Linked DNA regions of Homo sapiens. The protein of the gene in region 1 purifies or fractionates together with the protein of each later gene. This does not show direct contact. Each region holds a gene or a part of one and is shown in the gene's direction. Other genes may lie near its edges.

Region 1 (6,623 bases):
TTCTGCCTGGAGGAAAAAGAAAACCGTCTGCCTGCTGCATTTACAAAAAGGAAAACAGAAAAAAAGAAGAAACTATATCCTGTTTTTTTTTTTTTTTTAACTCTAAAAGTCAGGAAATGCAATCTCTGTAACTGTGCTTAAACATACTCATTATTTTTTCATAACTTGAAGGCTTGTTGTGTTGGGGATTTTTTGGCTGATATTTCAGACACTACATAAAACCTAATGAGCCCTCACTGCAGTATTGGATTGTGGTGCTGCCTCTGCCAGCAAGTGTAGCTGTTGAGTGAGATGCTTGGGGAGTTGGCTTGGTTTATCCTTCCCGGCTGACCTTGGAAGGTACATAATGTCCTGTGGCATTTCTTCATGCGCTAGTCCTTAAAACAAGAATTGTTTCCATTGTAGACCAGTCAGCACTATCTTTGAAGAAGACATTGAAGAAGAAATAAATATTCTTGATAACAGCTCTGTGGAAATGCCAGAATTTTATTAGACGGTTTTCTCTTCTTGGCGGCAGCTGGAGCAGGGGTTTAGATTTTATTCAGAAAATGGAGCCCTGCTCCATTCCCCACTGTGAACTGGCCTGGGCATGCAGCCTTAGTGACACAGCGCAAACAGAAACAGCCCCCAGCCCCTCCCGGACCCTGGCTGTACACCATGAGGTGCTGTGGTCTCTGGAGCCTCTTCCATGGTGGCGTTATTAATGAACATTACTGTGGGCTCTGTTCTCCTTTAATTTTTTTTTTTCTTTTTTTTTTGAGACGGAGTCTCGCTCTGTTGCCCAGGCTGGAGTGCAGTGGCACAACCTTGGCTCACTGCAAGCTCTGCCTTCCGGGTTCACGCCATTCTCCTGCCTCAGCCTCGCAAGTAGCTGGGACTACAGGCGCCCACCACCACACCCAGCTAATTTTTTGTATTTTTAGTAGAGATGGGGTTTCACCGTGTTAGCCAGGATGGTCTGTCTCCTGACCTCGGATCTGCCCACCTTGGCCTCCCAAAGTGCTGGGATTACAGGCGTGAGCCACCACGCCCGGCCAACCATTCTCCTTTCACTTGCACCTCAGTTACCTCCTCTGAACAAAGAAGGGAATGAACTCACCCCATGGTGCTGTTACGCTATTTAAATGTGACAGTAAGGCACCAAGCAGAGGGCCTGGCACAACACAAAGGTCTCCTGTAAATGGTAGCTGCTGCCGTTGTCCCCAGCTGTATGGTCCTGGGCAGCATGTGTAAATGATTTAATATTTTCTTTCTTCTTTGCAAAATGGGATAGGGAGAGTTTCTCTGGTGATGAAATGCGATCATAGTGGCATAGGAGGTAGCGCATGCCCATCACGGTGTAGCTGCTCAGAGTGCTGCCTCTCTCATTGCTGATCCATGTCCTGATTCCTTCCCAGCTTCCTGACACTAAGGATGAGTATAAGATAGATGCTATTGTCATCCCTGTTTTATAGACGAGGAACCAGGCTCACAGAGCTTAGATGACTTGCCCATGATTACAGAGCCATTAATTGATGGAGCCTGGAATTGGACCGAAATTTGGCAACAGAGTTCTCTGCCTTTCCAGACCTGTTGATTTTGGTCTTTCAGACGTTGCTAGGAGAGCCCTGAAGTACTTGATCAGCCCAAGTCTGTAAGAGGGCATAAGAGCAGGTCCTGGTTGTGTTTGGCCCAGTCTGAGAGGGCCTAGAGTTAGAAGGTAGAGTGCACTTTGAGGAGTTTGTGGGCCAGGGTTAGCTCATCCCTCCCTGGGGTGGGGAGTGATCAGTTGGCAGCTGTGCCGGGAGAGGGAGCTGGTGGCCTGGGGCGCGGTGGTTGTGTATGAAGCTGGAGGCTTGGGCTCAGGGGAGACCTGAGCATGGGGAAGGAGCATCGTGAGCATGGTGGGAGTTGTGGCACTGTGGGGGGGGCTCATGGGGACCGTGTCCATCCTCCCTCCAGAATCTCCTGCTGTGTGTCCTAACTGTGGTAGTGACCACGTGGTTCTCCTCGCTGTGTCTCGGGGAACCCCCAACAGGGAGCGGAAACAGGGAGAGCAGTCTCTGGCTCCTTCTCCGTCTGCCAGCCCTGTCTGCCACCCTCCTGGCCATGGTGACCACCTTGACAGGGCCAAGAACAGCCCACCTCAGGCACCGAGCACCCGTGACCATGGTAGTTGGAGCCTCAGTCCCCGTGAGTATAGGCAAAACAAGACATAGATGAGTTTGGGGAAGGGAAGGGGCACTGATGGGGAGGTGGAGATGGAGCCCAGGGGCTGCCATGGGCAGGCTGATGCCCCCTCATTGCCCTCAGCCCCTGAGCGCTGTGGCCTCCGCTCTGTGGACCACCGACTCCGGCTCTTCCTGGATGTTGAGGTGTTCAGCGATGCCCAGGAGGAGTTCCAGTGCTGCCTCAAGGTCTGTGCTCCCTGACACTGCCCATGCCCCCAGCTGTCCAGGGTGCCCACTCGTTTCCATCACAGCCAACTGAGTCAGATCAAGCACTCTAGAGACCTGATCTGGCTTCTGGTTTCAACCCCAGCAGCTTCTTGCTGTGTGGCCGTGGACACATTCCCTGGTATTTGAGTCCCAGTTGTTGCCTGTCTGCAATGGAGATAACGATGCCTCCCTTACACAGTGGCGTGCGTCAGGGCTCATGTTGAAGCTGCCCAGCCCAGCACCTGGCACTCATCAATGGGGCCTCCTAGCATTATTATAAACACATGATGTCGTTAGGCCTTTGTTGAGCACCTGTTGTGCTAGACATTGAGGATCTACAGATCAATCTTGCCCTTGATCTTACAGTCTGGTGTGAGAAGCTGACAATGATTATGCAATATGCAAATGCTGTAATCGGGCTAAGGCCCTTGAAGGGGTGTCTAGTCCAGCTTGAGTGGGTCAAGGAACCTTCCTGGGAGGTGATGTCTAAGCTCAGTCTTGAAGGGTAAGTTAAGGAGTAGGGAGGAAAAGAATGTCTTAGGTAAAGGAAGCCGCAAATGCATGGAGGCCCGAGAGTGTCGCTGGTGGGGAGAACTGCCCAGGATGAGGGCACCTGGACATGCAGGGCGAGGGGCAGGGGTCCTGAGAGGACTCTGGGGGGCCGGCAGGGGCCAGGTCAGGAGCTGCCTCCTGTGTCTGCCAAGGAGTTTGGACTTGTTTCTGAGGGCCACTGGGAGCCACTGAAGGATTTGAAATGGGGCAGTGATGGTCAGTTTTGTGCCTTAGAATAGTTAGTCTGGCGGAGCGTGGAGGGGGTGAGGCGACAGGCAGGGAAGCCAGCTGCTGAGGCTCTGAGCGGGCAGGGGCTGCAAGGCAGAGAGCGGTGGTGGATGAAGAGGCTGTCGAGTGTGAGGGAAGCTCCATAGACTGGTGGGTGGGCAGTGGGAGGGTCAGGCCGAGGGTGCTGTCACCAGGAACTCGGCTTTCAGTCTGGCCCCACCTCCCCAGGCCTCTCATCAGGTTTCTCACCAACTTCCTCTTCCCCCAGGTGCCAGTGGCATTGGCAGGCCACACTGGGGAGTTCATGTGCCTTGTGGTTGTGTCTGACCGCAGGCTGTACCTGTTGAAGGTGACTGGGGAGATGCGGTGAGTGAGAGGGGAGATGCAGTGAGTAAGGGGGGAGATGGGGTGAGTTGGGGGGAGATGGGGGAGTGAGGGGGAAGATGGGGTGAGGGGGGAGATGGGGTGAGTGAGGGGGGAGATGGGGTGTTAAGGGGGGAGATGGGGTGAGTGAGGGGGGAGATGGGGTGAGAGAAGGGGGAGATTGGGTGAGTGAGGGGGAGGTGGGGTGAGTGAGGGGGGAGGTGGGGTGAGTGGGGGGGAGGTGGGGTGAGTGGGGGGGACGTGGGGTGAGTGAAGGGGGAGATGGGGTGAGTGGGGGGCGGAGATGGGGTGAGTGGGGGGCGGAGATGGGGTGAGTGAGGGGGGAGATGGGGTGAGTGAGGGGGAGATGGGGTGAGTGAGGGAGGAGATGGAATGAGGGGGAAGATGGGGTGTGGTGAGCGCACGGGGGTGATGCAGTGAGTGAGGCAGGTGCAGCTGGGGCAGGGCCTCTCTGGGACTCTCACTCCACTCTCATGCTTCTCCATTGCTCTGTCCCCTCTCTCCACAGTGAGCCTCCAGCTAGCTGGCTGCAGCTGACCCTGGCTGTTCCCCTGCAGGATCTGAGTGGCATAGAGCTGGGCCTGGCAGGCCAGAGCCTGCGGCTAGAGTGGGCAGCTGGGGCGGGCCGCTGTGTGCTGCTGCCCCGAGATGCCAGGCATTGCCGGGCCTTCCTAGAGGAGCTCCTTGGTGAGAGAGGGGAGGGGAAGGCAGGAGGGTGGGCAGGAGGGTGGGCAGGGCCTTGGGGCCAGGCTCCCCACCTGGTACCCAGTAGCGGAGACAGAGAGGTAACAGGACTTGTCCCTTGTAGAAGTTTCTGAAATCCAGAAATGTGGAGAATAGGAAGGGATTGAGAGGTGGTGAGTTTAGGCTGGAGGAGAGCAGAGCCTTCTAAAGTTCCCTGGCCTGCCTCTGTCTAGATGTCTTGCAGTCTCTGCCCCCTGCCTGGAGGAACTGTGTCAGTGCCACAGAGGAGGAGGTCACCCCCCAGCACCGGCTCTGGTGAGTCGATAGGAGGCAGAGGCTGGGGTTGCTGCCCAATCCTCTTTCCACAGAGCCCCAGACATGGCCCTGTGCTGAGTAGGTCCTGGGCAGCCACCTGTCCTCATGCCATGCCCCTTATGGGCCCCTAGTGTCTCCTCCCAACCCCCTGCAGGGCTTTCTTCCCACTCCCCTCTCTTCAAGTCCTTCCCACCCGCTAGCTGATCTTCCTGTGCCTGCCATATTCCCTCTAGGCCATTGCTGGAAAAAGACTCATCCTTGGAGGCTCGCCAGTTCTTCTACCTTCGGGCGTTCCTGGTTGAAGGTGAAGCCTCTGTGCAGCTGATGCTTCCCTGGTCTCTGTACCCTACCTTGTCACAGGCACTGGCCCACGCGCAGCACCTGTACAGTGCCCTTGCAGCAACTGTCAGTTCCTGGAACCTGGAGAACCTCTCACTTGAGGGCATAGCTGAGTAACAGCCTCAGTGTGCCCTGACCCTCTGGGTGGGGTTAGGAGGCACCCAGGATCCTCAGTTACCCAGAGCCTTTGCTCTCGGGCCCAGGCTTTCTATGAAGTGGAGCAGCGTGGCTGAGTCGGCCCTGCCTCATCAGTCACAGAAGGAGAGGGTGGAGCCTTGTTTCTGAGTAGGGTGGGTGTGGGGCAGTGGGGGGCGGTAGGCCTCAGAGGTATTCCAGAGTAGAGATTCATGGAGCTTGGGAAAGGGAGGGTCTTGGCCCCAGGGGCACAGGCTGCTTTGTGACCCACCTCAGAGTGTGGTTCACACCTCTTCTCCCCAGCAGCACTGGGACGCTGGCCCCAGGGATCTGGGCCCCTCCATGACCTTCCACACTGGATGCCTCTTTCCCTGCAGGCCCTTCCACCTGCCTCGTATCCCTGTTGCTGACTCCGTCCACCCTGTTCCTGTTAGATGAGGATGCTGCAGGGTCCCCGGCAGAGCCCTCTCCTCCAGCAGCATCTGGCGAAGCCTCTGAGAAGGTGCCTCCCTCGGGGCCGGGCCCTGCTGTGCGTGTCAGGGAGCAGCAGCCACTCAGCAGCCTGAGCTCCGTGCTGCTCTACCGCTCAGCCCCTGAGGACTTGCGGCTGCTCTTCTACGATGAGGTGTGTATGTGTATCTCCAGTGAGAGGGAGGGAGGGGAGATGGTGAGCACAGGTTGGGGCCATGAGGGCAGGGTGGGAAATGGGTCTAGGAACCCTGGGCATTGGTGGCAGGATGGCACTTACAGATGAGAGAACTAGGGTTGGAGGAACTGGGGGACTCTAGGCTTGGATGAATATCAAGTCAGGGAGGCAGCTGTAGGCAGGGGAGACACCTGGACTGGGAGCCCAGCCATTTAGCTGGGCCACGAGGCTTTCAGTGAGGTTTCCGGCAGCTTTGAGTTGGCAGGATTGGGCCGGTTGTATGCCAGCCGTTTGGCCTTTGTGACCACCACCTGAGGAGATACGGTTACTGGTCCTATTTACAGGTGAGGAAGCTGAGGCTTGGGGATGTTAACCAGTTTGCCCAGTCCAAAGTGGTGGAGCCGGGAATTGAATCCACAGTTCCCTGAAATTGAGCCCGCATCTTCTGTACAACAGGGAAGATGAAAAAGACAGGTCCTCTGGAGGCTTTCAGTAAACGTCGGCTGGATTCTGTTTACAAAGCTCAGAGTCAGGATCTTTTATGGGGAGTGACATGGGCCTGGGGAAGGGGAGAGGCACTGAGCCAAGGTGGAGACAGTGAGGCCTTCGCAGAGACCTCCCTTGTACCCACCCTGGTGTGGTCCCCATGAGCCTCGCCTTGCTAACTGCTCGGTCTGCCAGGTGTCCCGGCTGGAGAGCTTTTGGGCACTCCGTGTGGTGTGTCAGGAGCAGCTGACAGCCCTGCTTGCCTGGATCCGGGAACCATGGGAGGAGCTGTTTTCCATCGGACTCCGGACAGTGATCCAAGAGGCGCTGGCCCTTGACCGATGAGGGTCCCACGCTGACCTTGGCCCTGACCTCAGGAGCCACGCTGTAGACATTCCCTCTCCTGGTCTCTGGGTCTGGCTTCCAGGCTCTGGCTG
Region 2 (3,500 bases), on another chromosome or scaffold:
CGTGGCGTGTGATGATGTCCCTTAAATCAGGTCTTTTGGCTGAGAGTACGTGGGCTTTGGACACTATTAATATTCTTCTGTATGATGACAGCACTGTTGCTACTTTCAATCTCTCCCAGGTAAGCCAGCATAGTCCAACTAACAACCAAATTAGGATAGGAGAGCATCAGGCCATGCACATTTGTGCTTGAACTAATGCCTGAGTTGATGAGCACTGACCGTCCAACACTGTTAATCACTGCAGTTGTTATCAACCAGCCTTAATCAATGTAGAGTTATCTGGGATAATATTCACTGTAGTCTTTAGTGTGTGTACACACACATACCTCTATTTCTTATGAGAGAACAGTGACTGTGTGTGTATGTGTATATGGGATAGATGACAGTAGTAACATTAAATTGTTCAGAATGAATATTAGCTGGCCAATGGGAAGAAATCAAAATGTAACATTAAGTTGTGACTGGAGTCAGCATTGGAAACACAGTTGGTTGCAATGGGACATAACCCTGCTTTCCAGGAGGACTTGACATCTTCTTTTCATTAAAAAGATATTCAAGATTTAGAAATTTTATATTCTATACATTTATAGAATGTATAAATATATATAGAAGGAGAGAGAGCAGTTTAATGAACCCCCATGTACCTGTCAGTCAGCTAAAATAGTTATGAACTCATGGCTAAACTTACTTCTTAGTCTATGCTCTCTCATTTCTGCCTCTCTCCAGGTTATTTTGAAGCAGTCATGTAAAAGCCTACTACTTTTAATGAGCTTAAACCCCTCCTTTGTTCAGAGGTAGGCTTCAGGTAGCTTCCAGCATAATAGCTAGAAGAGAGGAGCACTGAAGTTTGGGGAAAATGCCCGAGTCCACTGGGCTATAGACTTTTAAAGAAATATTTAGAAATAAAAAATGGAAAAAGGTCATTTTCCCTATAGTATACAAACAACTCTCTACTTTGAGTGCAAAAACTAAAACACTTAATTTCCTTGCTTCTAAGGAAATAAGACCAGAATCTTCTACTTCTTTCTTCTCTCATTTAAGCCCTCATTATCAGCCTAGAAAGGCAATTTTTCAATTGCTAGAAAGTTTATTAATAAGGTCATAAACATTGTACGAGTTCTGTGTTAACAGAAAATAAGTATTTAAAAACTGTATACTGCATTTGCTAGAGTAATGCGCTTTCATCCTTATGTTAGGTGAACTGTTGTTGATCACATATTTGCATAACCAGAATTGCTTTATTAACTTTCCCTTTTCCCCTGGAAAAAAAAGGGAAAATGCCCTTGGAACATTGTGCCTTCAGCACACTAAAAGCAGTTCTTTCTAGTTGGTGCTGGGGGCTTCCCCTGACTTCTTAAAAATTGTTCCAACTCTACTTTCAAGAAACTGACAGTAGGATATGAAGGTATAGCTGATTTCCAGAACATCTACCGGGAAAGAATCCTTGTTAGAATCCTTGTTACTTACTCTTTAGAGTTCCTAAACATGGTGGGGGGTGTTGGGAGAGAGGGCAGTTGCTAATCGTGAAGTGTATTGGTTTTTTCTTGGTACAGTTGCTTAAAGGAAACCAAACTTGTTCTTGTAGTCAGTGGTTCTCTCATAGTGGTTTTTGCCTTTCAGCTAGAGTCATAAATAACTGAAATGTAAAATTGCATTTTATGAAACATTTTAATTTATTTATCATAGGCTAAATTGATTTGTTTTTAATTTTCAGTGTTCATGAGCTACCACATTGCTGAAATTATCTTCTCCAAAAGATATATAGAGAACATAAATTAGGGTGACCTATGGTACCTGAGACAAAAATAACCATAAAATCCTAAGAATAACAACCATAAAAATCCCGGCAAGCAAGTCTCAGATAAATAATAGAAGAGAACAGAGTCACTTTGGGCAAAAGAGTCTATAAAATCCATGTTCCCACTCTTCTAATAATGAGTACATTGTCTCTAAATCAGGAACAGAAAGGTAAAGAACAGCAAGGCACTCCCTCAGTGATAAGATTAGAGATATGAGAATAAAAAGTAAGTTTTCGTGTAGATAGTCTAAGCAAGGAAGCAGCAAATAAGGAACATGCTAAACATCGGTTTAGTTTATACTGTAAAATTCAGGAAGTTCGCTGGACCTGAAGGGTAGTTTATCTTTCATGGTCCAGCCAAAAAGGGAGACAAACGTGTGACAATGATGGAAAGGTATTGACGGGTCTCAGGATCTTTACCCTCCTCGGTCATATCTGATGTCATGACATTGTACCTGTTCTTTCTTTCTTCTCCTCCTCCTCCTCTCCAGTTGTCTGGATTTCTCGAACTTTTAGTCGAGTACTTTAGAAAATGCCTGATTGACATTTTTGGAATTCTTATGGAATATGAAGTGGGAGACCCCAGCCAAAAAGCACTTGATCACAACGCAGCAAGGAAGGATGACAGCCAGTCCTTGGCAGACGATTCTGGGAAAGAGGAGGAAGATGCTGAATGTATTGATGACGACGAGGAAGACGAGGAGGATGAGGAGGAAGACAGCGAGAAGACAGAAAGCGATGAAAAGAGCAGCATCGCTCTGACTGCCCCGGACGCCGCTGCAGACCCAAAGGAGAAGCCCAAGCAAGCCAGTAAGTTCGACAAGCTGCCAATAAAGATAGTCAAAAAGAACAACCTGTTTGTTGTTGACCGATCTGACAAGTTGGGGCGTGTGCAGGAGTTCAATAGTGGCCTTCTGCACTGGCAGCTCGGCGGGGGTGACACCACCGAGCACATTCAGACTCACTTTGAGAGCAAGATGGAAATTCCTCCTCGCAGGCGCCCACCTCCCCCCTTAAGCTCCGCAGGTAGAAAGAAAGAGCAAGAAGGCAAAGGCGACTCTGAAGAGCAGCAAGAGAAAAGCATCATAGCAACCATCGATGACGTCCTCTCTGCTCGGCCAGGGGCATTGCCTGAAGACGCAAACCCTGGGCCCCAGACCGAAAGCAGTAAGTTTCCCTTTGGTATCCAGCAAGCCAAAAGTCACCGGAACATCAAGCTGCTGGAGGACGAGCCCAGGAGCCGAGACGAGACTCCTCTGTGTACCATCGCGCACTGGCAGGACTCGCTGGCTAAGCGATGCATCTGTGTGTCCAATATTGTCCGTAGCTTGTCATTCGTGCCTGGCAATGATGCCGAAATGTCCAAACATCCAGGCCTGGTGCTGATCCTGGGGAAGCTGATTCTTCTTCACCACGAGCATCCAGAGAGAAAGCGAGCACCGCAGACCTATGAGAAAGAGGAGGATGAGGACAAGGGGGTGGCCTGCAGCAAAGATGAGTGGTGGTGGGACTGCCTCGAGGTCTTGAGGGATAACACGTTGGTCACGTTGGCCAACATTTCCGGGCAGCTAGACTTGTCTGCTTACACGGAAAGCATCTGCTTGCCAATTTTGGATGGCTTGCTGCACTGGATGGTGTGCCCGTCTGCAGAGGCACAAGATCCCTTTCCAACTGTGGGACCCAACTCGGTCCTGTCGCCTCA
Region 3 (6,623 bases), on another chromosome or scaffold:
TACTGGCTATGCATTTTAAGCCCAAGAGAAAGAAGTCAGAGCTGATACCATCATCACCTTGCTTTGCCCTCATAGGTCCTTTAAACTAAAAATGCCTTCGTTCTTAGCAATTGTGATTCTACGTTCTTCCCAGTGTATAAAAGATGTTATTTTCACATACCTTTTTGACTTGGTAGACCAGATAATTATTTCTATTCCTTGTACCTGTTTTGTAATTTTCTTTGATACACAGGAAGTCAAGTCATAGGAGGCAAATAATTTAAATACTTAAAATAGTTTTCAAAATATCCTCAATAAAAGTGATTAAAAATTAATGAAAGCTACATTTAATGCATAATATGTATTTCTGTACTTAGTTTTAGTTACTATCCAGCAGAAAACTTGATAGAGTACAAATGGCCACCTGATGAAACAGGAGAATACTATATGCTTCAAGAACAAGTCAGTGAATATTTGGGTGTGACCTCCTTTAAAAGGAAATATCCAGGTACTAGTTTATATAATAGATTAATTTATAATTGATAGTAATTCTTTATGATACACTGTCAACTTCTGAATTTTTCTGTAGATTATATTTTATATTCTTGTGCTTGCTGTTTTTTTTTAAGACTAAGGGTCTCATTCTGTAACCCAGGCTAGAGCGCACTGGTGCGATTATAGCTCACTGCAGCCTTGCACTCCTGGGCTAGCTGTCTCCCTGCCTCAGCCTTCTAAGTATCTGGGACTACAGGTGTGCACCACGACGCGTGGCAGATTTTTTTAATTTTTATTTTTTTAGAGATGTGAAGTCTTGCTATGTTGCCCAGCGTGGTCTCAAACTCATGGCTTCAAGCTATCCTGCTGCCTCAGCCTCCTGAATTGCTAGGATTACAGGTGTGAGCCACCACGCCTGGCTGTGTTTCATTTACTGCTATCATTCAGCATCACTCTTCATTATTGATATTTTCTATGGCTCATAAACTGATTTAAAAGCAAAATGGGAAAGGTGAATTTCCTGAGGAAAATTTTAGAAAAAATCATTTTATAGTCAAGTTTGGGATTTTTACCATTGTTTCTTGATCTAAGGAATAGAGTTAGCTATATGAGCCGTATCTGAATTTGAGAAAGGCTATTCCTCATGAACTAGTTTAGTATAGTTATTTATATGACCTTCTTGCTTTGGATTATTCTATTTCCTATTTTATTCTAACTTTTGTATCTTGCTGAGTTTTATTTCTTGAATTTATAAATTTTTTTGTAGCCCCTTTAATAATATTTGGAATATGTAATATGAATACTTTAAAAAGTCAAGGTTTTTAAGCTTTTAAAAGTTTTACAAGTGCATAAGGTTTTGCTGTTTTTAATAGTCTTTTGATCTTTTTTTTGGAGATTTAGAGCGACGAGATTTGTCTCACAAGGAGAAACTCTACCTGAGAGAGCTAAATGTCATTACTGAAACTCAGTGCACTCTAGGTAAGAATAGCTTTTTAATGTGAATTTTTCAAGCTGAACATTTATGAGATAATACTAGATAAGTATCTTATTTCCTAAAATATTTTACAAAATTAATAAAATAAATTGAACTATTTAAATGCTACATTATTTACTTCATTTTTGATTATTGTTAAAATACACAGGAGAATGAAGCTTGAACACACATGTGGTTCCTGACTTATGATGGTTCAGCTTCATGATGGTGTGAAAGCAATGCATATTCAGTAGAAACCATACTTCAAGTGTCTATACAACCATTATTCTTTTCACTTGCAGTATAATATGTAACAAGTCACATGACATATTCAACACTTTATATTAAAATTTGTGTTAGCTGATTTTGCCCAGCTGTAGGCTAATGTAAGTTTTCTGAGCATGTTTAAGTTAGGCTAGGGTAAGCAAAGATGTTTGGTAGGCTAGATGTATTAAATGCTTTTACTTTTTAGGATAGTTTCAACTTAGGATGGGTTTATCATATGTAACCCCATTGCAAGTCAAGGATCAACCTCTATTCTATAACAGAGTATAATTGTCTAATTTTTCTCTTTTTTTTAACACAGAGTCTCTCTCTGTTGTCCAGGCTGGCATGCAGTGGCGCGATCTTAGCTCACTGCAACCTCCATCTCCCGGGTTCAAGGAATTCTCCCTCAGCCTACCGAGTAGCTGGTACTACAGGCGCATGTCATCACAGCCATCTAATTTTTGTATTTTTATTAGAGACGGGGTTTTACCATGTTGGCCAGGCTGGTCTCCAACTTCTGACCTTGTGATCCACCCACCTTGGTCTCCCAAAGTGCTGGGATTACAGGCATGAGCCACCATGCCCAGCCCTTGTCTAATAATTTTTACAGAGTTTTCAGAGTGTTTGTATTTTTTGTACAAAGCTTGTACAATATATTTTTTTAAGTTGCAGGTTCTTTGCTAAGTGCATGGTGTGTGCGTGTGGTCCCAGCTACTTGGGAGGCTGAGGGAGGAGGATCACTGGAACACAGGACTTTGGGGTTGTAGTGTGCTGTGATCATGTCTGTGAATAGCCACTGCACTCCAGCCTGGGCAAGATGGCGAGACCACATCTCTAAAATGCAAAAAGGCAAATTTTCTTCAATTTTTAGTTCTGTATAATTATGTCCGTGCTTTATTTGTAATCTTTTTTTCACAAACATTTTAATGCAACATGGCTACTTTTTATATAAATTCTTGGGAATGCATTTTAGCAATTGGTGAAATCTGATACTGTGAGTTTTGAAAATTGTCTCCATGGTGTGTGTGTGTGTGCTGATGTTTTTGGTGAAATTTTAATTGATTGTAATATTTCTTGTGTATGGAATTTGAAGACTGGGAACTATAATATGTTGAATTTTTTTTTATTCATCTAGTATTCTGTAGTACTTGTTAGTAGTTAGTGCATTTCATTATTTAACAGTTGTTTCCAACTAAAGGGATATATGTTCAAAGCACATAGAATCTTAAAAATAAACTTGTTTGGTTGAAAAATTGATATATTTGCCTTTTGCAAGATAATCTTTTGATTGCTCGAGTTTATATTGTGAATATTAAGTTTAATTATTTTCAAATGTACTAAGATATTTTGCTTTGGCTATTGGAAAACCATTACAACGTGGAGCGGTTTGAAGAATTAAATTTTGAAGAGTGCTTTTGTTCACTTATCCTTAAAAGAGCTTCTTTATTTTTTTATTTTTTGGTCTAAAATAGGCTTAACAGCATTGCGCAGTGATGAAGTGATTGATTTAATGATAAAAGAATATCCAGCCAAACATGCTGAGTATTCTGTTATTCTACAAGAAAAAGAACGTCAACGAATTACAGACCATTATAAAGAGTATTCCGTAAGTAATTGAGGTGACTGGCATTTTTTATTTGGGTTGGGGAAAATGACATTTTAGAAAGTTATATGTGACTTCCAACTGTATTTTTTTTTTCCAGCAAATGCAACAACAGAATACTCAGAAAGTTGAAGCCAGTAAAGTGCCTGAGTATATTAAGAAAGCTGCCAAAAAAGCAGCAGAATTTAATAGCAACTTAAACCGGGAACGCATGGAAGAAAGAAGAGCTTATTTTGACTTGCAGACACATGTAGGATAACTTAAATTTAGTACCCCCTGAACTTAGTTTATTACTTGTTATTGCAGAGTGCCCATCACCCCCTTTATCGTTATTTTTTGTACCACCTATGTGTGTGTGTTTTTTTTGTTTGTTTGTTTGTTTTGTTTTGTTTTTTGTGGCAGAGTCTGTGTAGCCCAGGATGGAGTGCAGTGGCATGATCTCGGCTCACTGCAACCTCCGCCTCCCGGGTTCAGGCGATGCTTCTGCCTCAGCCTCCCCATTAGCTGGGATTACAGGCGCCTGCCACCACACCCAGCTAATTTTTTGTATTTTTAGTAGAGATGGTGTTTTACCATGTTGGCCATGCTGACACCTGCGTGTTCTTTTTTTCCTCAGAAGTTGAGATGTTATTTTTAATGGTGTGCTTAATAATACTCAATTTACATTTTTTTGTGAGATGTCTTTTGCTTTACGGTTAATAATTCTAAATGAGACTAATAATAGCTACATATCATACTTGCTGTGCGTCCCAAGAGTTTTTAAGAGATTTGCATGTTAATTCTCATAGTAACCATGTGAGGTTGGAACTAGGATTACTTCCATTTCATAAAGAAATTGAGCTACAGAGAGGTCGTATAAGCTACCCAGATCACTCTGCTGTTAAGTAGTGAGCAAGAGATCCACTGCCATTCCTCAGGAGAATAGGCCTTTAAAACAATAATATATAGAACTGAAAGCACCAACTGTCCTCTTAGGTTATAGCTCCTGATATCTCCTAAAATTTTAGCTTTTCGAGGGGGAAGTGGGCGTGCAGTGGTGAGCACGTGGGGACTCTTCCTAAAGCCTTGATTCTTAGCATGGAATCAGTTTTGTGTTTCTCTTTATGTTAACGTAGGTTATCCAGGTACCTCAAGGGAAGTACAAAGTTTTGCCAACAGAGCGAACAAAGGTCAGTTCTTACCCAGTGGCTCTCATCCCCGGACAGTTCCAGGAATATTATAAGAGGTATTTAGTAGTTTTAGTTACAGTTGGTATCGGCTATTGGTAAGGGGTTTCAGAGCCTTTTGTACTTGCCTCCTAACAATTTTGGGGTCTATAGATATCACCGTAAGATATCGTATAGGATTTGTGTTGCTATTCTTCTCTGGTTCTGTGGTAAACAATACCCTGTAGTCAGAATTTGAATATATGCTGGTGAAGTCTAGATGCCTCTGTCTCTGCCCATTCTGTTTGGGTTTGTTAGAGACAGATGCTGGGGGTTCTGTAGCACCTCACTGCTCAGGGTATGTTCCGTGGTCCAAAGCACTGTTATTGCTCAGAAGCTTGTTGGAAATGCAGAATCTCAGGCCCAACTCTAGACCTATGACTCAGAGTCTGCATTTTAACAGATGTCTGTGTGATTCATGTGCAGGTTAGAGTTTGAGAAACACTGACTTTTACTGCAGAGAAGATGAGAGAAGGAGCGGAGAGGGGCAGGCATGGGCAACTGGGTGCCCCAGCCACATTGCTGACCTGGCCTGGCTGCTGCTCCAATATGGACCCTAAATGTTACTTATCTCCTATTCCCAAATTAAATGTAACTGAAAAAAACAGGGCTAACAGATTCTTTTTTTTTTTTTTGAGACAGTCTTGCTCTGTACCCAGGATGGAGTGTGGTAGTGTGATTTCGGCTCACTGCAACCTCTGCCTCCTGTGTTCAAGTGATTCTCCTGCCTCAGCCTCCCAAATAGCGGGACTGCAGGCACATGCCACCACGCCCAGCTAATTATTTGTATTTTTGGTAGAGGTGGGTTTTACCATGTTGGCCAGGATGCTCTTGATCTCTTGACCTAGTGATCCGCCCACCTTGGCCTCCCAAAGTACTCGGATTAAAGGTGTGAGCCACTGTGCCCAGCCCATTTTGTTTTAAAGTCTCAGCTTTTACTTCAACCTTAAGCCTTACTCTGGAACCGTATGTTTTTCATAATATACTATTTTTTAGAGAATAGAATTTAAAATATAGTATCATAACTCACACCATTTGAAAGTCAAATCTTGGGCAGAAATTTTTTAAATAAAAAAAGATTTTTTAAATTCAAATTTAAATCATGAGCAGCAATTTTTTAAAAGTTTTTCTTCAAATTTTTTTTTTTTTTTTTTGAGATGGAGTCTCACGCTGTCGCCCAGGCTGGAGTGCAGTGGCGCGATCTCGGCTCACTGCAACCTCTGCCTCCTGGTTCAAGTGATTCTCCTGCTTCAGCTTCCCGAGTAGCTGGGATTACAGGTGCCCGCCACCTTGCCCAGCTAATTTTCTGTATATTTAGTAGAGACGGGGTTTCACCATGTTGGCCAGGCTGGTCTCGAACTCCTGACCTCAGGTGATCTGCCCACCTTGGCCTCCCGAAATGCTGGGATTATAGGCGTGAGCCACTGCACCCGGCCTTTAATTTTTAAAAATTTTATTTTGGCATCAGCAAATTATTAAAAGTCATATGCAAGTATATTAACCCCTTTGCTTTTTGGTGTGTTGTCTTAGTTGGAGAAGTCTTCATCTAGGGTTGCCTCCTGAATGGGGGCTACTGAGGGTGAGAATGGAGGTGGCACGAAGCAGTGCTGTCTGACCTAGGGGAAGAGATTGCCAATATAGTTTCAGACAAAATAGATGATTAAATTTGTTAGAATACATGCTTCCCAAATTTGTTTACAATAATTGGTTACTAAAAATTTTGCTTTCTATGTTATTATTTTAAGTAATATCATGTACCATGCACTGGTGTGATATGTATGCATTAAATAAGTTAATGCATATATATCAACTGTATGCGGTAGATGCTATTATTAGGTCTGTTTTACAAATGGAGTGACAGCACAGAGAAGTAGCAAAGACCTGGGACAGTGGTCGAGGTGGATGTGAGCTGGCAGCCAGACTTGGGGCTGCTGACATTTTATTTACTTTTTTCTTTTTTTGGGTTGAGGGCAAAGAGGGGAGGCACATTATCTCTTAGTAAGAATCAAATGCATATTTTACATAAGTCTAGTGAAAAGATGTTCAGGCTTTTTATTAACCCTACTTGATGACAAAAATGAAAAATTAGTACTCTAGTTTT
Region 4 (6,623 bases), on another chromosome or scaffold:
ATTTAATATCTATCTGCAAAATAATAATGACTTTACACCCTTACCTTACACCATATATGAAAATTAACACAAAATGGGTCATAGATGTAAATGTAAAACTATAAAACTTCTAGAAGAAAACATAAGAGAAAATTTTTGTGACCACAGGTTAGGCAAAGATTTCTTAGATATGACACCAAAGTATGATCCATAAAAGAAGAAAACAACTGATAAATTGGACCTTATCAAATTAAAATTCTTTGCTTTTCAAAAAACATCATTAGAAAAGGAAAAGACAAGCCACCAACTAGGAGAAAATATTTGCAAATCATATATTTGGTAAAGAACTTGTATCCAAAATATCTATAGAACTTTTATAACTCAGTAATAAGATAATTCAATTTTTTTTAATGGACAGAAAGTTATTTGAGTAGGCACCTCTCCAAAAAGGATAAATGAATGGCTAAGAAACATATGGAAAGATGCTCAACATCATTAGGGAAATGCAAATTAAAACCACAATGAGATAGCACTGCACTCTCTTATGATGGCTACAATAAAATAAGATTATACCAAGTGGTGGTGAGGATGTGGAGGAACTGAAGCTCTCATACACTGCTAGTGGGAATGCAAAATTATACAGACACTTTGGAAAAAAGTTTGATGGTTTCTTAAAAAGTTTAAGATTCACCTACTTATGATCCAGCCATTTCACACCTATGTATATTACCCAAAAGAAAAAGAAAATATGTCTCTACAAACATTTGTACAGAAAAGTTTATAGTAGCTTTATTTGTAATAACCAAGAATTGGGGCTGGGCACGGTGGCTCATGCCTGTAATCCCAGCACTTTGGGAGGCCAAGGCAGGCGGATCACGAGGTCAGAAGATCGAGACCATCCTGGCTAACACAGTGAAACCCCGTCTCTACTAAAAATACAAAAAAAAAAAAAATTAGCTGGGCATGGTGGCAGGCGCCTGTAGTCCCAGCTACTTGGGAGGCTGAGGCAGGAGAATGGCATGAACCTGGGAGGCAGAGGTTGCAGTGAGCTGAGATCACGCCACTGCACTCCAGCCTGGGCAACAGAGTGAGACTCCATCTCAAAAACAAAAAAAAAAAAACAAAAAAAAAACCAAGAATTGGAAACAGCCCAGATGTCTGTCAACAGGTGAACGGATAAACAAATTTTGATATATCTGCACAATGGAATGCTATAGAGAGAAAGCAGATAAGTGGGTTGCCTGAGGTTGGAGGTGAGAGCAGGGATTGACTCCTAACTGGCATGAAGGAGCTTTTCAGCAGATGGAAGTGTTCTGTGTTCTAAACTTCAATTGTGGGAAAACTCATTGAACAGTAGGCTTACAAGGGGTGAATTTTATGGAATATAAATCATATCTCAAACTGTTCCATGACAAAAAAAAAAGAGTATGTCTCTTCAGCAAGTAATTGGAACTCTGGCCTTATGATTTGGTATTTCTACAGAATAATTGTCTGTAATATTTTATATATTAATTTCTATATTTCACAGAGAACTCAAAGGTGCAATTAACCCCTCATATAGTACTTTCACTACTGACAAGTAGTTCTGTTTGGTAGTAGACAATTCTTTTATATAAGTATCTAATAAATTAGTAAAAAAAAAAATTGTATTGAGTACCTGCCAGCAAAGACGGGCACATACTCCAGTAGGTGTATATCAGAACTATATCCCATCTTTGATGCCCCCATTTTACTTCTATTTGTATTAATAGTGGAATCCTGCCTGTCCCTCTGGTGCCATCTGCATAAAATAATATGTTCTGTTTTTTTTTTTCTCAGTCACCAAGCAGCCCCCTCTACAGAATGAAGTCAGGAAACCGAGTTGCAACATTTATGATCTATGTGAGTATTGCTCTGGGCTTCTTACTTCATGACTGACTATAGCTCTACTTTATTTTATTGTTTTCAAAGCAATTTCACGTATTGATTTTATCTGGTACTCAGCGCAAAAATCTCCAGGAATTTTGCGAATTTCAGACAGCATTTTTGATAGGCACTGTAGGAGATGTAAAGAAATACAAGACAAGGTTTCTACCCTGAAAGAGGCTGACAGTGTGTAAATCTAAATATGACCTTGGTATGGGCAGTGGATTAGGATGGGAAGTGGAGCTCCACTGAAGGCCAAGAGATAGAGGGACTTGAACAACACAGGAGGAGGATCTGAGAATCTGTGTCCTTGAGGTCTCATGGACTAATCAGTGTTGAAAAACAACCCATAGATGAGGTTGTGGGGCTGTGGGGAGGGAGATGGATGAGGAATGAGGCAGCAGATTTACAAGAGGGAAGAACAGAGACACTGAGAGAAATTCAGCAAGTGCTGCCTCTGATGTTTAGTGAAAATTCTCTTCCTTATCTCTCTATAAAATCTTCAGTAAAATCTCCATGACTCCCCTTTCAAGATAAACCAATAAATTGTACTTCTCTCCTAATTCCTGGCCTGATCAGGATTCGGCCCCAGTCTGTATCATCTCACCTGTCCCCTTCCCTTCAGATCATGTGGGTTTACTTTCGTCTCTATGGACAAGCTTCCAATCACCTGTCACTGGAAGAGAATATTAGAATTAATCACTTATTAGAAGAGATACCTTACTGTTAACTGAAGGGACAAACATATATAAGGGTTCTATATAACAACCAAAGATGAAGTCCTTGTTTCAGCCTCATTAGAATAGCAGACATCCCTCACCCCAGCTTTTCCTCTTCTATTAGGACTGTCTCTGGTCTCCACAGGACAGCCAAGAAAGGGCAGTCAGAGGCCAGCATTCTGTGTAGTCTTTAATGCCAGCAATTCCAGTGTGTTTCTCTATGTGGCTCAGTTCTGTACTTCCTATGGAACTGGAAGGCTTCCACTTACAATGGTGTCTGGCCTCATTCTGATCATTCTGAGGTCAGCTATCAGGCAGGGGACACATCTTGGAGCTGCAGTTGGTTGCATCTCTGGTTGACCACTCCAGCTGTTATGGGAGGTCACAAACGGCGAAAGAATGAACTGCTGCCAAAAAACAGGGCATCTAGGGCACAATATATCTCTGTTCTTTATCCCCTCAATATCTCCTATGGCTGGTTCCCTGGTTACAGGGCCCCAGTTACTATAGCGAAGGTAGCGTGGGTATAAGAGCCCAGTAATTTTAAATGGCAAATGCATGTGTGTGTGTGTGTGTGTGTGTATGTGTGTGCATGCACTCTCATGCACTTTCACATGTGTGTGCATGCATGTGCATTTGGGTTTTAAGTATTTGAGACAGAGTGGAATGGAATACACTTTGGATTTGGAGTCAGTTGACCTAATCCTGATTTTGCCACTTACTATGTGGCCTCAGCACAGATTACATCTATTATGTGAGCTCACTTTTTGCCCTGTGCTTCCTCACAGTGTTGTTGTGAGGGTCTGATGAGATAATGTAAGGAGGGATGTCACTCTGGAAAGTTCCATACTGTATGTTTCTGTCATTGTATCCCACAGAGCAATTAAAGGAAAGGGTATCATAAAGGGGAATCAGTATCATGGGACCAGGGAAGTGCTAGATTATGCCCAAGTCTTTCATCTTCAGGTTGGGATTTCTCGAGACAATTTCAAGACAAACATTTCTCAAGACAAATGTTAAGGTTTGTGGGAAACCTAAGACTGATTTTATAGGGAGAAAATAATCTTTAAGAAGTACAGAGGATTGAGTTGAAGTCCAGTTGGTGATTTTCTGCTCAGATTGGACATAAGATCAGTCCCAATCTGGGTGCGGTGGTGTGCACCTGTAGTCCCCGCTACTTGGCAGGCTCAAGCAAGAAGATCGCTTGAGCCCAGCAGTTCGAGTCCAGCCTGGGTAACATAGTGAGACCCTGTCTCTATTAAAAAAAAAAGATCAGCCCCAGTACAAAATAGTAGAAGGTATACAGACGGAAGATTTCTCTCCCTTTCCCACTGTTCTTACAGCCCATGCCGTGCTCATGAGCTTCATTGCATGCAGAATCCGATTTTCTTTTTAATGTGTTGGCTATGTCATTCCTTTCCACCATATTGTAAAACCACAGGTAAAAGAATGCAGGAAAGTCCAGGTTGCCCCTTACTGACAAGGGCTAGAATAGAATAATCTAATTTGTTACCTGAACACAAGGAGCCAATTGTTGTTCTCATCGGCTTTCCCAGTGTGCTACAGGGAGAGCCAAGGAATGCTAATAGTCACCACTGCCATTTCCAGGTTCCAAATCACCATGTCAGTTCACTTGCATCTACCAAGGGCCAGCGTCCTACCTCCTATACCTCTTGCTCTGTAACACAAGTAAATGTACCGGGATCTGACTGCCATAAGATTACAGAGCATGAACCTTCTGGTAGATAATGCTAGGCAGCGTGAGGTAAAACTGGCACTCTTGTGTGATGCAACTGCTGAAAAAATAATTTAGCAAAATGTATAAGAAGTATGAAACTTATGCATGTCCTTTTGACCCCATAATACTAGTGCCAAGACTCTTTCCTATGAAAACAATCCAAAATGCAAAATGATTTTTTTTCATTAAGTTGTTCAGTGCAGTGTTGTTTATAATAGTAAACATTTGGATATGACCTAAATTTCCAAATGTGTAGCATGATGGTTATGAGCAGGGACTTTGTAGTCACATGGCACCAGCTCAGCTCAAATCCTGACTCCATCATGGAAGAGCCATGTGACCTTTTATAAAGTGCTTAAGCTCTCTGAGACTTGGTTTCTTTATCTGTAAAATGTGAAGAGTTAAAAATAATAACGATTGTAACTCCTAGGATTGTTCTGAGGAATAAATGAGATAATATATTTGCAAGGACATAGTGTAACTTTTAGCATATAGTCAGTGCCCAATAAATGTCAACTATCACTATGTAAACTATAACTTTTTTCTGGATGGTACAATGATAATTATTGTTATTTAAAAATATTTTCCTGTTTTAAAACAGTTTACAATTATTATATATTTCTGTGACAACCAGAAAAAAAGCTTCACATTAAGAAAACATATCCATAGTCCTAGAACAGACCAGTGATGAAACTCCTTAGCTTGGGTTCCCTGGAGAGGAGCAGAGTGATCTGGAGAATATGCCAAAGGTGTAATAAGTAGTTCCTATGATGCCCAGCTTTCAAGAAGAATCATAGTCTAAACTGGTTTTCAAGCCACAAGTCATGATCCATTATAGGTTGTGAGATTAATTTAGTGGTTCTGATGAGCATTTAAGAGAACCACACTAGAATAGAATAAAATAAAGTAGAGAAGATCAGAAGCTATCTCAGATATTAAGAATGTTTTATGACAATTATATTTCAGGAGGTGTGTGTGTGTATGTGTCTGTGTGTGTGTGTATGTGTGTGTGTCTTGGGTCATTATTTAAAATGTATTTTTTCCTAAGGGTCTCAGTCAAAAAGTTTGAATCTACTTATTGTAGCCCTCAATAAGGATGTTAGCTGGAAGGGAAAGAAAGGAAGAATACCAAAACATTGTCCTCTTGTGGCCCTGTAGGCAAACACCAATGCCATTGAGTAGGCTCCCGAAGTTCCTCCTGAGTTGGATGATTGTCTTTCAAGTATTTCTCTCAGAGTTGAAGAAAAGACCATGAGAAGGAATCTATGCAGATGTGACATCATATGACAGGGTAGGGAAGTCGGTGGCAGTTTTAACTCTGGCTTCTTCCTCTGGTCTTGTAGCTGAGCTCGGTGGAAGCTGGAGGAGCCACAGCCTTCATCTATGCCAACCTCAGCGTGCCTGTGGTTAGGGTGAGTGGGGCCCTGGTCCCAGAAGACGGGGTTGAGGGAGTGCAGCGCTTACCCTCTAACCTTCACGCTGTCTGTGCTTGCAAGCCCATTCCTGGGAGGAGGGCCAAAAAGAGGTCTTCCCCAATTCCCAGAATCACAGATCATCCCATAGTCTTCTTTACTACCGCACACATGCTCGTCACTTGTGCCTCTATTTGTTATTTTATTTACACTTATATTGCAAGTAGATGATTACATGTCTGTCTTCCCTGTCACAGTACAGCTCCTCAAGATAAGAGCTCTGTTTTATTTACTTTGGATCCTCTACAGCATCTAGTTCCTTCCATCATTAGTTCAGTCCACATTGAGAGCTAGAGGCACGGAGGGTGCAGAGGGAAATTCATAGCCCTTTGATCCAGGAGTTTACAGAGACGTCAGCAGGCATTATGATGTTGCAATAGGGATTTGGAAAGGATAGGCGCTGAGGAGAACTGAGTCTAAGAGGTTTGCTTCATGAATGAGTATTTCCTCCAAATTTCAGATCAGTCCAACTCCCTGGCAGCCCTTACCTAATTTAGGAATGAAATGAAGATAACTAAACGAGATCATTCCTGTAAAGCAGGTAGTACAGTGCCTGGCACATCCTGAGCATTCGATAATCAATGCCAGGTATCTCTGAATACTCAGGAGCTTGACGCCTCTTGTAGGCTTAGGAACATAGAGACTGCCAATGCATCCTGGAAAGCTCTTCATGACCTGGAGTTTTGTCTACTTTGAGGACCAAGGTTAAAGTAATTTGACTACAGGAAGTAGATACGGCAAAGAAGCCGTGTATGGGGGAAAAACATACAGGATTTAGCGTCAGAACACCTGGGCTTGAGTCCTCACTTT
Region 5 (6,623 bases), on another chromosome or scaffold:
CAATACAGTTGGCTTTAGAAGCTTTTTGGAAAAAAAGGCGTTGCACCATGGCTTAAGAATTAAAGTCTGTTTAAAAAAGATATTATAACATTTCCCTGAGTTTTTATTTACTTAAATATTGATTGATCTCAGAAACAGTATCACTGGGAAAAACACATGGGGAAAGAAAACAGTCTCTGAAGTGCTGGTGTATTTAGTATTTCCTTATTGATATTGAAGCTGAATCTAAATTTTTTTAATACATAGGTTTATAGCATAACATAAATATTGGAATTGATTTTAAAGCAAAAATTAAAGGCTGAAAAATAATGTAAACTTCCTTACATTATTTATACACTGAGCCATTCTCTTTTCTATTTGTCAATTTTAAGTGTAGGGTCACTAGGTTGATATGTTTTAAGACATTGGATGCTGATTTAGTTACCTTTGGCTGGTTTGAAATTTTAATCATACAAGTATCTTTACACTATTTTGTTTTTGTAACAGTAGCATCAACCCATGGCCGTAATTTTTGGTAGAATATTATCTACATTAGGTATCAGAATATTTTTACCTTCTAAGACAAAAGTTATTTTCATTGATAAAGAAGACATTATACAACTAGCAGTAATGGAAATAAAATAACAGAACAATTATTAAAATTAGTAATTGGCATCTTTAGGATACTGTTTTCTGTAGCCGATTGTGTTGATTGATAGCATTGGTGTCCAAGGATGATGGGTGCAGTAAGGAAACAAGAGAGCACAGAGCAAAAGAGGTAAGGTAGCCTGGCTTATAGAAGATTGAGGTGTGACTGATCATATAGGAGGGCAGTGGTGTTTCAGTGGCTGTCTCCTATTTCCTGCTAAGGCTTGCAACATATATGGCACACATCCAGTATGGAGGTAGGAATAAAGACATCACTGCTTTTCAGTTTGTAGTCATATTGTAGTCAAGAGAAAGCTTCTTGCCAAGTCCACATTTAGTTCACCAGGACACACTGTTTTTAGAACTGGAAAGGTAGTGATAGTGCAGGTTAGCTAGTTAGGAGTTTTGTGACTTTTTATGATGGTACTTTGAATTAGGATTTTGACTTAAATTCTCTGTGTAACATTGAAGCCTAAGGCCAAAGAAGCATTTGAGCAGCAGTACAGTTATGGTTAACATGACATTTTGGTTTTGTGTAAGGCCTTCTGAAGTATATTCTTTTATAAGCTAGTTATTATCAACCACTTATGACCTGGGTTGTTCAGAATACTATAGAGCTTCCGAAACAATAGTTAAGAATTTCTCCAGGCCAGGCGCGGTGGCTCACGCCTGTAATCCCAGCACTTTGGGAGGCCAAGGCGGGTGGATCACGAGGTCAAGAGATTGAGACCATCCTGGCCAACATGATGAAATCCCGTCTCTACTAAAAATACAAAAAATTAGCTGGACGTGGTATTGCACGTCTGTAATCCCAGCTACTCAGGAGGCTGAGGCAGGAGAATCACTTGAACCCAGGAGGCGGAGGTTGCAGTGAGCCGAAATCACGCCACTGCACCCCAGCCTGGCGACAGAGTGAGACTCCATCAAAAAAAAAAAACAAAAAAAAAAAAAACAGAAAGAATTTCTCCTAACAATAGTTACGGAGTTACAGTTAAGTGTAGGAGAAATTGGAAGGCCAGTAACTTATATTTTCTTTATTTGTTCCTTATAGCATTTAGCCAACCTGTTTATGCACACAAATTTGCATCTTGGCTGTTTCCTATTTCAGTTTGGTTTTTAATGTATATTTCATTATGTAGACTCAGTTTTAGAGCTACTTATGTTCTCATTGATCTGGGTCAAATCACTACTCAGTCTCAGGTTCCCTTTTTTAAAAATTACTATTTTTTTCTTTTTGAGACAGAGTTTTGCTCTTGTCGCCTAGGTTGGGGTGCAGTGGCACAATCTCGGCTCACTGCAACCTCTGCCTCCCGGGTTCAAGCGATTCTCCTGCCTCATCCTCCCGAGTAGCTGGGATTACAGGCGCACACCACCACACCTGGCTAATTTTCGTATTTTTAATAGAGATGGGGTTTCACCATGTTGGCCAGGCTGGTCTCAAATTCCTGACATCAGGTGATCCACCCGCTTCAGCCTCCCAAAGTGCTGGGATTGCAGGCATGAGCCACCGAGTCCAGCCTAAAAAATTAATTGATTTTTTAAAAGCTAGGTAATACATGCCTATGGGACCAAAATCAAAGGATACCAAAGGATGCCTAGCCGCCACCTCTCCAGACAGTTCTAGAGAGGCATTGGTTTCTAGTTGTCCTTCAAGAGATATTCTCTCGCTGGGCATGGTGGCTCAAGCCTGTAATCCCAGCACTTTGGGAGGCTGAGGTGGGTGGATCAGTTGAGGTCAGGAGTTCAAGACCAGCCTGACCAGTGAGGTTAAACCTCATCTCTACTAAAAATACAAAATTAGCTGGCGTGGTGGCACACACTTGTAATCCCAGCTACTTGGGAAGCTGAGACAGGAGAATCGCTTGAACCCGGGAAGTGGAGGTTGCAGTAAACCAAGATTGCACCATTGCACTCTAGCCTGGGCAACAAGAATGAGACTCCGTCTCAAAAAAAAAAAAAAGAGAGAGAGATTTTCTCTATATAAAATAATGCATGTGTATTTCCTTTATTTTTACTCTTTTTTTTTAAAGTACAAATGATAGCACTCATTAAATACTATTATGTATCTTTTCTTTCTCAAAGATATATCTTGGAGACCATTATTTTATTCCATATGTAAATAGATGCCTTATTCTTTTTGGTCTCTATCATGTTCTTTTTTACAAGTTTAATTTATTCGAACATTTAGGATGGAAACATAGGCTTCTAGTCTTTTGTTATTATGAATTATACTGTCATGAATTTGCTGTAAAAATATATATACACATATATATGTGTTCTGTGTGTCAATACGCATGCACACAAAAATTTGTATATCTCTAGCATAAATTCCTGGAACTGAAATTGCTGGGTTAAAGGTATATATATTTTAAAATTTGACAGTTAGTGCCAAATTGCTTTGTGTAAAAATAGTAATATCCATCAGTTCTGCATTTATGAATTTCACATCCATGGATTTAACCAACAGTGGATTGAAAATACTTGGAAAAACAAATTGTGACTGTATTGAACATGTACATACTTTTTTTTTCTTGTCATTATTCCCTAAACAACACAGTATAGTGACTATGTACATAGCATTTACATTGTGTTAGGCAGTACATGTAATGTAGAGATGATTTAAAGTATATGAGAGGATGTACATAGGTTATGTGGAAATACTGTGTCATTTTATGTCAGGGACATGAGCATTTACGGATTTTGAAATCTGTGGGTGGTTCTGGAACCAATCTCCCACAGATACTGAGGGACAACTACTTTATTTGAATTGTTGTTTGTCATCACAAATTTCCTCAAGCTTGATCCCACCCTTGATTCCACAAGCTTGATTCCCCATGAAATATAAGTAAGATTTCTGTTCCTTCAACAATGGATGAAAGTGCTTCTTTCTTCACAATATAGTTAGATCGAACTTTTGATTTTTGAGAATCTGAGAGGTGAAAGTTCGGTCTCATAGTTTTAATTTGCCTTCCTATTTTAAGTGAAGCAATCAATCTTTTAATGTTGATGAACCTTTTTGTAGTTTTTGTGTGAACTAGTCATTCCCTCATTATGTCCTTTGCCCATTCTTTTACTGGTGGTGGTCTTTTACTTACTTCATATGTTAAGTAATTAATTTGGTCTGGGTCTGCGATCTATCTTATAAATAATATTTTCTTATTTACCTTTTTATTATTTAATTTTGAGTTTTTTATGTCGTGCAAATTTTTAAATTTTGTATAGTCTAATTTATCAATGTTTTATGGCTCAGGGTTTTCTGGCATACTTAAGAAGGTCCTTCCATTATTATTTTTAAAATTCTCCTTTTTGAAATTCTTTTATGGTTTCTTCTTTTTAAATGTTTAAGTTTTCTATTCATCTAGAATTAGTTAGTGGAACAAATGAGATAGTGATCCAACTTGTTTTTTCCAGATGGCTCCCCAGTTGTCACAATACCATTTACTGAATTAGTTTTCTATTGCTCACTAATACTTAATATTACTGTGATTATTTACTCAGCTATGTATTTGGGTCTACTTTTAGACTCTGTTCTGTTCAATCGATCTGTTAGTCTATTCATTTATGTTCATAGTTAATTACTCCAACCTTATGATATGTTTTGCTCTTTTATGAAGAAGCTAGTCCTTCCTTCTTTTTCAGAGTGCTCCTGACTTCAAAAGCATCAATTTCTTAATCCAAAAATGGGAATAACTACTTCACAGTATTTGCTGTCTTTTCCTATAAACCATTTACTTTGCTATCGATTAATTATTGTTTGGTATTACTATAATAATGCAAAAAAAAAATTATTTCCAGGTACTTTTGTATGGACCATCTGTTTAACTTTCATATTTTGCTTCTGATCATTTTTCTTCAAAGGGCCTAACCATATGCCTATGCAGGGACCTGGACCCAATCAACTCAATATGACAAACAGTTCCATGAATATGCCTTCAAGTAGCCATGGATCCATGGGAGGTTACAACCATTCTGTGCCATCATCACAGAGCATGCCAGTACAGAATCAGATGACAATGAGTCAGGGACAACCAATGGGAAACTATGGTCCCAGACCAAATATGAGTATGCAGCCAAACCAAGGTAACTAAGCTTTATGTCCTTCTTGACTAGAGTGCTCTATTAGCCTTTGAAAAGTAAAATGATTGTTGTCAGGTTCTTAGCTGGTTCATAAAAATAAAAGTTTAAAGTGAGTGACAGTCATGCCCATAAAAAGGAGATGTTGAGTTTGAAGCTAGTTTAAATCTCTTTGCTCAATGTAGCTTTTTAAGCTTATTTATTTTTATGTCTTTTGGACAGTTTGTTTGAGGTTCTGTATTGTTGAGAATTGTTTTTTAAAGCCAGTCAATGAAGAACCAAACATTTGGTTTAGCTAGAAAGTTGAGAAAATAAACACCTGCTCCTTCATTTTACTTATTAAGGATGTATTAATTTATATGAATTCCCCTTGATTTATATGGATGTTTTCTGATGCTGTGTTTCAGCATTAAAAGGTAATTCTAAAATAATTTGCCATTAGAATGTTCAGTGGAGGTGCTGCTGTACTTGTCTTAGAGTGGTGTAAGTCCATTAAAGTTTATTACCAATCTCAGAATGAAATTGTACCATGTTTCTCTTTTAAGTATTCTGTGAATAATAACTAAAAGCCAGTAAGTGGCGCTCTGTTCTGCTAATTGACTGTTAAAACATTTGGCTTATTTCCAGGTTAATGCTATTTCAGTTACAAAATGTAATGAAGTTAAGACTGTAAGATAGAATTAAATGTATTTGGAATAAAATTTTCTAGATTTTGATTTATAAAATAAACAGAGCACTAAAATGTACCCAGATAAAAGAAGTTAGTGTTAATCTGTTGATAATTCCTTATGATGAAATAATATAATTTTAAAATAATACAGATTTTTAATAATTTTCATGAGATATACTGAAAGCAAAAGGAGATAATAGAAAAAATTGCCAATCATTGTAGCTTCACAAAACTGGCACTTGCTACATTTTTTTCCCCCAAAGTTACTTAATGCTTATGGTAGAATTATTTTTTTGTTTTTATTAGGTCAATTAAAAGTCCAAACAACAGCAAGATCCAGTCAGTGCTAGATCAGAAGGGAGTTCATGTGTTTCTCTATACAGTTTGGTTACCAGGAGAGAGAACAGGAAAATTGATGATTCTGACAGCAACTCCATTAATGATGGCACACTTCTTAACTTCTTAGAAACCTATAGTTAAGAAAAGGTATGGTGTGCACAAAAAATGGATGTTGCTGCAGCATGGTTTGATATGACATAATAAGATTCGAAGAAAAAAATAATGCATATAGCAATGTGCATATTGACTTTTTGGAGAAAAGTATTGAGGTGTTTTTAGAAATTTTTTGTTCTTAGGGACCAACTTTTATTTTTAAAAATGTCGTATTTTGTAAGTATGTGTAGGTCTTCCTTTTACTATAGTACAGTAGTTATATCACTTTTTGCCTTGTTCTCATAGTTATAAATTTCTTCTTTTTTATTTTTATTTTTTGTATTTTGTTAAAAGAATAGAAACAATGTCTTGGTATGTTGCCCAGGCTGGTCTTGAACACCTGGGCTTAAGTGATCACCTGCCTTGGCCTCCCAAAGTCCTGGGATTACAGGCATGAGCCACTGCACCTGGTCAGTTTATGAACTTCTTAATAGAAAATAGGCTGTACAGAAATGACCAGGTAGAGATCTGAAGAGATTAAAGACAATTTTCAAAAAGAAAATATGGTTAAAATCATTGAGGAAATTTTTATTTGTTTATTTATTTATTTATTTATTTTGAGACGGCGTCTGGCTCTGTTGCCCAGGCTGGAGTGCAGTGGCACAATCTCTGCTCTCTGCAAGCTCCGCCTCCCGGGTTCACACCATTCTCCTGCCTCAGCCTCCCAAGTAGCTGGGAGTACAGGCACCCACCACTACGCCCGGCTAATTTTTTTTTTGTATTTTTAGTAGAGACAGGGTTTCACCGGAAATCTTTATTG

What was found.
Region 2: the proteins of STK11IP (region 1) and ARID1B purify together in Homo sapiens (affinity purification with mass spectrometry, with the first as the bait; one large-scale study listed by BioGRID). This does not show direct contact.
Region 3: the proteins of STK11IP (region 1) and PHF10 purify together in Homo sapiens (affinity purification with mass spectrometry, with the first as the bait; one large-scale study listed by BioGRID). This does not show direct contact.
Region 4: the proteins of STK11IP (region 1) and P4HA3 purify together in Homo sapiens (co-immunoprecipitation; one large-scale study listed by IntAct). This does not show direct contact.
Region 5: the proteins of STK11IP (region 1) and SS18 purify together in Homo sapiens (affinity purification with mass spectrometry, with the first as the bait; one large-scale study listed by BioGRID). This does not show direct contact.

What each region holds. Positions count from the first base shown.
Region 1 is NC_000002.12:219,609,663-219,616,285, forward strand, and holds part of STK11IP (serine/threonine-protein kinase 11-interacting protein), read left to right. Parts: intron 1-208; coding exon of another isoform or gene 209-219; exon of another isoform or gene 220-464; intron 465-1,590; exon of another isoform or gene 1,591-1,699; intron 1,700-1,941; coding exon 1,942-2,172; intron 2,173-2,292; coding exon 2,293-2,396; intron 2,397-3,465; coding exon 3,466-3,563; intron 3,564-4,089; coding exon 4,090-4,268; intron 4,269-4,498; coding exon 4,499-4,580; intron 4,581-4,813; coding exon 4,814-4,884; coding exon of another isoform or gene 4,885-5,027; exon of another isoform or gene 5,028-5,209; intron 5,210-5,431; coding exon 5,432-5,679; intron 5,680-6,044; coding exon of another isoform or gene 6,045-6,128; exon of another isoform or gene 6,129-6,156; coding exon of another isoform or gene 6,157-6,165; exon of another isoform or gene 6,166-6,381; coding exon 6,382-6,531; 3' UTR 6,532-6,623. UniProt on the Homo sapiens protein: May regulate STK11/LKB1 function by controlling its subcellular localization.
Region 2 is NC_000006.12:157,203,878-157,207,377, forward strand, and holds part of ARID1B (AT-rich interactive domain-containing protein 1B), read left to right. Parts: coding exon 1-119; intron 120-2,289; coding exon 2,290-3,500. UniProt on the Homo sapiens protein: Involved in transcriptional activation and repression of select genes by chromatin remodeling (alteration of DNA-nucleosome topology).
Region 3 is NC_000006.12:169,712,652-169,719,274, reverse strand, and holds part of PHF10 (PHD finger protein 10), read left to right. Parts: intron 1-356; coding exon 357-487; intron 488-1,368; coding exon 1,369-1,452; intron 1,453-3,186; coding exon 3,187-3,320; intron 3,321-3,417; coding exon 3,418-3,567; intron 3,568-4,432; coding exon 4,433-4,542; intron 4,543-6,623. UniProt on the Homo sapiens protein: Involved in transcription activity regulation by chromatin remodeling. Belongs to the neural progenitors-specific chromatin remodeling complex (npBAF complex) and is required for the proliferation of neural progenitors.
Region 4 is NC_000011.10:74,268,782-74,275,404, reverse strand, and holds part of P4HA3 (prolyl 4-hydroxylase subunit alpha-3 isoform 1 precursor), read left to right. Parts: intron 1-1,797; coding exon 1,798-1,860; intron 1,861-5,684; coding exon 5,685-5,753; intron 5,754-6,623. UniProt on the Homo sapiens protein: Catalyzes the post-translational formation of 4-hydroxyproline in -Xaa-Pro-Gly- sequences in collagens and other proteins.
Region 5 is NC_000018.10:26,050,708-26,057,330, reverse strand, and holds part of SS18 (protein SSXT), read left to right. Parts: intron 1-4,485; coding exon 4,486-4,707; intron 4,708-6,623. UniProt on the Homo sapiens protein: Appears to function synergistically with RBM14 as a transcriptional coactivator. Isoform 1 and isoform 2 function in nuclear receptor coactivation. Isoform 1 and isoform 2 function in general transcriptional coactivation.